Homo sapiens: one gene and its partner. The protein of the gene in region 1 interacts with the protein of each later gene in a biochemical or structural test. Each region holds a gene or a part of one and is shown on either strand. Other genes may lie near its edges. The genes, in order: IFNAR1 and FBXW11.

The links.
Region 2: the proteins of IFNAR1 (region 1) and FBXW11 form a complex in vitro, tested with the Homo sapiens proteins (one study listed by BioGRID and IntAct).

The regions. Positions count from the first base shown.
Region 1 is NC_000021.9:33,323,643-33,328,064, forward strand, and holds the start of IFNAR1 (interferon alpha/beta receptor 1 isoform 2 precursor), read left to right. Parts: upstream 1-1,327; 5' UTR 1,328-1,413; coding exon 1,414-1,489; intron 1,490-4,422. UniProt on the Homo sapiens protein: Together with IFNAR2, forms the heterodimeric receptor for type I interferons (including interferons alpha, beta, epsilon, omega and kappa).
Region 2 is NC_000005.10:171,996,491-172,000,306, reverse strand, and holds part of FBXW11 (F-box/WD repeat-containing protein 11), read left to right. Parts: intron 1-3,255; exon of another isoform or gene 3,256-3,417; intron 3,418-3,816.

The DNA of each region.
Region 1 (4,422 bases):
TGGAATAGATATGGAATATAGAGATGGAATAGAGATGGAATATAGAGATGGAATATAGAGATGGGATATAGAGATGGGATATAGAGATGGGATATAGAGATGGGATATAGAGATGGGATATAGAGATGGGATATAGTGATGGAATATAGAGATGGGATATAGAGATGGAATAGATATGGAATATAGAGATGGAATAGATATGGAATATAGAGATGGAATAGATATGGAATATAGAGATGGAATATAGAGATGGGATATAGAGATGGGATATAGAGATGGAATATAGAGATGGGATATAGAGATGGAATATAGAGATGGGATATAGAGATGGAATATAGTGATGGGATATAGAGATGGAATATATAGATGGAATATAGAGATGGAATATATAGATGGAATACATATATATTCCATTGCATTGTTCTTTACAAACATTCATTTAATTATGTAATTGCTAATTAATTGCTTGGTTGTTATAACAACGAAGTATTTGATTCCTTATTTTATCTCATCATTTAAATTTTATTTCGCATATTTTCACAATGCACTGGATCTATTACTGAGGAATTTAATTAAATAATCATTCGAACCATGGGCTCGAATTGTTTACTGATAAAGCCCGACGACCAAAACAGCCTAGCGACTGCTGTTTGGAGCCCCTCGGCCCAGGGCCCGTGGCTGTTCTCTCCAAGGGACCATCTCGCCCCTCAGCCAAGTCGCCCGGAAAACGAGCGCTCGACCGCCTCTGCCCCGCTCTCGCTCTGCACACAGCAACGGTCTGGTCGCTCAGCCACTTCCTCCTTCCAGCCTCATCTGGTTCCCAGGCCGCTGGGGACTCCCAACGCCACTGTCCAAGACTCTAGGGTCAGCAAGCGCCCCGGGCGGAGAAGGGCGAGGACGAAGAGCGCCGGGCCGCGACCAGGAGCCCACCCGCGCCCTCCGACTGCAGACATGGGGAAGAGACGCGGGAACTCCAAAGTCGCTGGGTCTGCGCAGGTGTGTGCCGCGATCCTGTGAAGGTCAAGGCCTCCTGTGAGGGGGAGTCGTCCTGGAATGCGATGGTGAAGTGCTCCAGACCGGCCATAGGCCGGAAAGAGTGAGGAAGAAGAGAATGCAGGAGGCCTGCGATTTCTAAGGCGCGCGCGCACAGGGGTGCTGCAATTAGGATGGGGCAATGGGAGCTTGGAGAAGGGGTGCTAGCTAGGAGGAAAGGCGCGTGCGTGGAGGAACGGCGCGTGCGCGGAGGGGCGGTGTGTGTGTCAGAAGAGGCGGCGCGTGCGTAGAGGGGCGGTGAGAGCTAAGAGGGGCAGCGCGTGTGCAGAGGGGCGGTGTGACTTAGGACGGGGCGATGGCGGCTGAGAGGAGCTGCGCGTGCGCGAACATGTAACTGGTGGGATCTGCGGCGGCTCCCAGATGATGGTCGTCCTCCTGGGCGCGACGACCCTAGTGCTCGTCGCCGTGGCGCCATGGGTGTTGTCCGCAGCCGCAGGTGAGAGGCGGGGAGGAGAGTCTTGGCGCAGGGCGGGAGGTAGGGCACGCAGCTGGGCTACGGGGGCGGCGATGCTGTTGGGGGCGACAGACGCCCAGTCTGGGAAACCTTCGGTCCACTTTGCCGCGCCAAAGATTAAACCCGACCTGGGCTCGCAAATCAACCAGGAGAAAGTGGTGTTCTGGGTCCTCTCTTGCCGCTTGCCTGTGGCCGTGTACGGGTCCTCGGGAGCGCCCGGGTCCCACCCCCGTGAAATGGCGGTGCCAGAGCTTTGTGTCGAGTTTGATTCTTTCCGGGAAAGTACCGCGGCTCCGCTGGTCTGTTTGATAATAAACAAAACATTTCCCGAAATGCATTTCCTCAATCTGGTGAATAGGCGCCCAGTCCCACGGGGGAGTGAGCTAAGTGTGGCCAGGATTTCTCTGCCCTCAGGATTCATACAGGCCAATAAAAAATGACAGTCGGAGTGACTGAAGCATAATTGTCAGTTCTCGAGGTTTACTAAGCCTGCTTCAGGGCGCATCCGGGAAAAACGTGAGCCACAAACACGTCTGTGACTGGTTTTCCAGAGGTTTTCAGGAGGTGGGGCAGGAAGGCAGTAAGGCAAATAGTTCTGTGAGAATTTAGTTAGTGCCCAAGAAATCTGTATTTTAAGATACCATGAGTGTCTTGAAGAGAAAAAGAGAGTAAAGGGAGTCAGTTATGCAGATGCCTCTGGGTAGATGGAGTCTTGACTTTGTTTTGCACCTGAGAAGATAAGCTTGTAATTGACATGGTCAGTGTGGAAGGCCTGAACTAGTTTTTCAGATTAACTTTGGAATGCCATTTGTTGAGAGGAGAGGTCCATTCACATTGTTGGGGGGCTTAGAATTTTATTTTTGGTTTACTTAACTACCTACTTTTTTCCCAAAGAAATAATCATGTTCAAAACTCAATGAAATGTTATCTCAATGAGATTGTAATGTTGCTCAGTCTTTCAGAAGTCATAAAAATAGTCATACTTTTTAAACTAGTAAATGCAATTCTAGGACCCAAGACTAAGAAAACTGTCCAAAATATGGGAAGACATTTTTATTTATACTTTTTTTTTTTTTTTTTTGAGACAGCCTGTTGCCCAGGCTGGTGTGCAGAGGCGTGATCTCAGCTCACTGCAACCTCTGCCTCCCAGGTTCAGGCGATTCTCCTGCCTCAGCCTCTTGAGTAGCTGGAATTACAGGTGCACGCCACCACATCCGGCTATTTTTTGTATTTCTAGTAGAGATGGGGTTTTGCCATGTTGGCCAGGCTGGTCTCGAACTCCTGACCTCAAACAATCCACTTCAGCCTCCCAAAGTGCTGGGATTACAGGTGTGAGCCACCACGCCCGATCTATTTATGTTTTAGACTTTAGTTTTAGGAACTAGACTTAGGTTGTAGACCTGAAGTTACAGTTGGCATCCCCTTGTTTATGGGAGACCAGCAAAGAATTGACTTATGAATGATCTGTCAGGGTAGCCCTTCGCAGATGGCTGAGTCTTTTTATCCTTCCTTGGGGATTTGGCTGAAGCATAATGCTAGTAACAGCCATTCGTTTGGAAGAGGGTGTTGCAGTCACTTGGCCTCTGGGCTTAACTAACTTCCCTTTTGCGTAAGAAAGTTGGGAGAGGTCCTGAGATTTTTTTTTTTCTTTTACAAAAATAATAAAAGAAAAATACAAAGGCAGGGCGTCACCAGGCTAATTTGCTGAAATTCTTCATACTTACTTGGGATGCATGGGGGAATGGCAACTATTACAAGGTTGATAGAGAGTGAGAGGTAATTTTGTAGTGAGGAGGGGTACCCAAAGAGAATCAGGGCTAGCATCCCAGTGCAGGAGTCCAGGTGGTCTGTGAGCCTGCAAGTGAGTTCAAAATACTTTACCTGTTGGCTTAGGAAACCATATACCTGTGTGGTACATGATATCCTATTTCTCAAACTTTTCCACAAATATGTAGTATACTTTTCCTAGGATGTGGGTACTAGGGTCCTGGTGCATCCCATAGTAATTTCTTTGAAGTCTTTTGTTTATGAAAAACTTGCATTAAACTCATGTTTGGTTTGATGTGAAAAAAGCTTTCCCAGAATTTTCATATAAAATTGACATTCCAGGAGGGTGTGCATTAAGAAATTAATTTAAAATTAGGTTAGCGGACAGGTGGCAAGATATAATTTATAGGCATTTATCATTTCTTAAGCTCTTAGCTGTGTGCCAGGCAGTAATCTAAGTGTTTTAAAGGTATAAACTCATTAAGCTTTCAGAGCAGTGTAGATACTGTTATGCTTAGTTAACAGACAAGGAAACTGAGCAACGGAGAGATCAAGTAACTTGCCTGAGGCTGTATAGGCCAGTCCGTGGAGGAGTGGGAAGTCAAATCCTGAGTCTGGACTAATAGCCTTGGGGCTTAACCAGACTAGACTGTTTTCCCAAAGGCCAAACAATTTAAATTCCTGATTGTCCACTTGTATGTTAAGGGCCTAATTATCAGTATCTTTCAGTTAACTGTGAGCCCAAAAATATCTGAGACCGGTCTGAAATCAACTTAGAAAGTTTATTTTGCCAAGGTTAAGGATGCATTCATGACACAGCCTCAAGAGGTCCTGGCCACATGTGCCCAAGGTGGTCAAGGTCCAGCTTGCTTTTATACATTTTAGGGAGACATATCAATCAGTACATCTAAGATGTACATTTGATTGGTTCGATCTGGAAAGGCAGGACAACTCAAAGCAAGGCTTCCAGGTCATAGGTAGATTTAAAGATTTTCTGATTGGTAATTGGTTGAAATCAATGGAAAGGAATGTCTGGGATGTCCTAAGGGGTTGTGGAGACCAAAATTTTATCATGCAGATCAAGCTTGTCCAACCCACAGCCCACTGGCCGCGTGCAGCCCATGATGGCTTTGAATGCAGTCCAACAC
Region 2 (3,816 bases), on another chromosome or scaffold:
GGGATTTATGTTTGATCGGTTTAGTTTAGACTGACCAAATTGTGGTTTTTGAATTCTTATTCTTACCATCATCAAAGCTGATGGTTTTAACCTTAACAGAATAAGCAGTGAGAATTCATACAAGATTTTCTTCTGAGTTGTATTGTTCATTGAATTAGATGACAATGGGGGAAGAAACGTGTTGGTTAAGAATGTGCTCGTTACCCTTGGTTAGTTTCTGCTGATCGCAATTGCTTAAGAGGAAGTTTGTCTTTGTAGGCAAATGAGAGACAGACCAGGAAGACCTGACAATCCAGTAGGGTATCTCTTACCTGGTTCTTAGTGTTTTAATGAAACTAAAAGATGGAAGAGTTCTGTGATGTCAGCGGGAAGCGTTTTTAGGAAATTCCCTCTCAGGTTGAGTTAACAATGAAGAGCTTCACAAAATGGAAAGCTGTGAAGTATAAACACTGGGACATTAATAGGAAAAATAAAAAAAAAAGCTTTGGCTCTTTGGCTTGTGATAGAGAGGTGTGTAAATATAAGCATATTGAATGTAGGAAACCATTGTATAGTAAAAAGCCTCTGATCCACAGAAGAAAAAGAAAGACTGAGGTTCTACTATTGTGAAAAAGGAACTTGAGTAATTTTTAATGTTTATTTTTTTAGGAGTTAACTGGAGAACATTGAACCAGTTTTGGTAACTAACAATAAAATATATTTTGGCCCTCTGAAATGACTACATGATAGATTCAAAGAGAAAGGGGGCAGAGGGGCAGGAAGAACTCAGTCCTGACACTACTCACCTGGCATCTGTTAATCTTTGTATTACTAGCATAAGGCCTGCCAGCAATTAGGGATTGAAGAAATATATATATACAATTAGGGATTGAAGAAATATATATGTGTGTGTATATATATATATATTTTTTTTTTTTGAAGGGAAGGGAGAAAAATTAACTCACTAGTACAGGGGAAAAGCCTGAGGATTCAAGAGGTCCAGAAATGAGTCTGTTAGTCAAATTGCTGTGGTTGTGTTTTGCTATAACTTGTTTTGCATTTTGGATAGTCGTACCTTGAAAAGCATAGTATACTGTTTTAGCAGTTCGCTACTAGCCATAGTTCCCTAGCTACTTCTGTCAAAATTGGGTTTCCAGTTTATTCTTAGGCTTAGGAGTAATACCACTTAATGGGAAAAACTTGAGAACTCATTATTTGCTTGGGATTTTACTTTTGTGATCTCCTTAAAGTTGTGAGTCTTAAGGTATTTTCATCTGATTGTTATGGCGAGGTTAATCATAGACCGGTATTTCAGTCACTTTAATTGCCTTACCTACAATATGAACAATCAGAACATCTTTAAGAGTCATTGCCTGTGGACTGTCAACAAATCTTAGAATTTAAAAATTACTTGGGTTCAGCTGGATTTGAGATTCTTTGTCACAGTTACAATCTTTGCTGCTAAACACAAAGACTACTTGAGTACCATTATAGTATGTCTTGCCACAGTCTTTTTTTTTTTTTTTTTTTTGAGACGGAGTCTTGCTCTGTTAACCAGGCTGGAGTACAGTGGCACGATCTCAGCTCACTGCAGCCTCTGTCTCCCGGGTTCAAGTGATTCTCCTTCCTCAGCCTCCCGAGTAGCTGGGATTGTAGGCATGTGCCACCAGGCCCGGTTAATTTTTGTACTTTTAGTAGAGATGGGGTTTCACCATGTTGGTCAGGCTGGCCTCACACTCCTGACCTCAAGTGATCTGCCCGCCTCGGCCTCCCAAAATGTTGGGACTACAGGTGTGAGCCATCGAGCCCAGCCTATAATGTGTTTTGTTTTAGCATTAATATTGTGGGCTTTAGGCTGGGCATGGGGGCTCACACCTGTAATCCCAGCCCTTTGGGAGGCCAAGGTAGGCAGATCGCTTGAGCTTAGGAGTTCGAGGCCAGCCTGGGCAACATGGTGAAACCCTGTCTCTACTTAAAAAAAAAAAAAAAAAGACAAGAAAAAAATATCATGGGCTGTAGAATTGCATGGCTCTTTGTTAATTAAATGCTTTTTTAAGTGGCAAGATCTAGGGAATTACCCTTTCAGGATGGCCCAACTGATTCATGTAGGCTGAAATATTTACTCTTCTGTATTTTCATTGTTCTCCATTTTGATGTTAATTAATTTAGGACCTTTGAGAGTAAAGCTTGATTTCTTCTCCTCTCTCAGAAATCATGGGCTTTCTGACCCTTGAACTGTGGAGTCCATAGTGCTCCATGAAAAGGGCATGGGCTCTACTACCTAGTAGATGTGGGACTTTGGATAGGTTACTTCTTTCTGCTCATCTTTTTTTGAGAATTAAATATGGGTAATTAATGTAAAGGGCTTGGCCAGTTAGTAGCTTTTCAATAAGGTAGGTATTACTATAATTACTGCAGGAGCATTTTGGCTATAATGTAGCAATTGTGGAAGTAGCAAATTTATGTTCGAGTAAGTTCAGTCTTTTTGTTTTTATCTTTGTTGTTCTGCTGAATGCTTTTTCTCTTTCCCTTTTAGTTTGTTTAGAATTTGCAGTCTAATTTGATATGGTAGAAAAAGAATATTGATATAATATGGACAGGACTTAATATTTAATGGTGTCACCTAGTAAATTGTATATTAGCGTTCTTTATGATTTTTCCCAGTTTACGTGATCATTGGCCATTGTACGGGACTGGCCTTTACTGAGTCAGAAGTTCAGTCTTCAGTTATATGTTTTGAAGCACACTATATTTTAGCTAAGGGTAGAGGATTTGGGTAATATGTAGATATGATGTCTTATATGTAGCAAACCAAAACATTTTGTTAGGTACGTAAATAAATATCTTTATGGTAGATATTTGAGCCCTCTCGTATCATTCTTTTTGGCTGACAAACTATTTTTCTAATGGTGGAGGAGCTGTCTTAGAAAATGGATAAGGAAGTTCAGTGTAGCTGAATGGTCTAGGACAATTTATATGGATGATAGGGTAGGTATTTTTTAGCTGCTCTCATTTGGAAGTTGCATGCTGTTTATCATGAGTAAATATTAACATTAGGGATGTTCCATTATTTGTTACGAGTTTTGTATCCTTTCAACACAGAGGTGAGGAATGCTGCTGCAGGCATTTTATGCCAAATAGCTGACTCAGGGGTTATAACTTTTTTCCTGTGCCTCAGATCCACCATTCCATTGACCCTTCCTTCCATTTCTTGGAGGCTGTCCTTTGCCGCTGGTGCCATGGTGGGTGTATGGATTGCTTTCTGTCTTTCAACAGTTACCGAAGTGCATGTTTGGGATTTTGTTGAAGAAAGCTGGATACAGTAAACGGAAAGAATCTTGGAAGATGCTTGACTGCTGTCTTTTCTCAGACTAGTCTGAAAGGGAAAACCCCCATTCATTCTGGATTGGTGGATCTGAAGTACAAAATATTTTCCAGGTAAGCAATTACCCTGTATTGTTTTGTTTTGTGGAACTCAACTCGCTGAAAGAAATTTTGAAAAATATTTTCCCTTATTTATTTTGTCCATTAATAGGGAAAGGGAGAAATATTAGACGTTTGTGCGTAGTGTCATGTTTGGCCATGTTTGAGTGTGGATCAGTGAAGGTCTATGTGTCTGAATTCCTGGTAAAAACTTTGTTTTACTGTAAGAAGTGCAGTTATTATTATCTTTGAGACATCAGGTCGCCCAGGCTGGACTGCAGTGGCACAAACATGGCTTACTGCAGCCTTGACCTCTTGGCCTCACACGATCTTCCTGCCTTAGCCTCTCAGGTAGCTGGGACCACAGGCACATGTCACTATGCTCAGCTAATTTCTTTTTTGTAGAGACAGGGT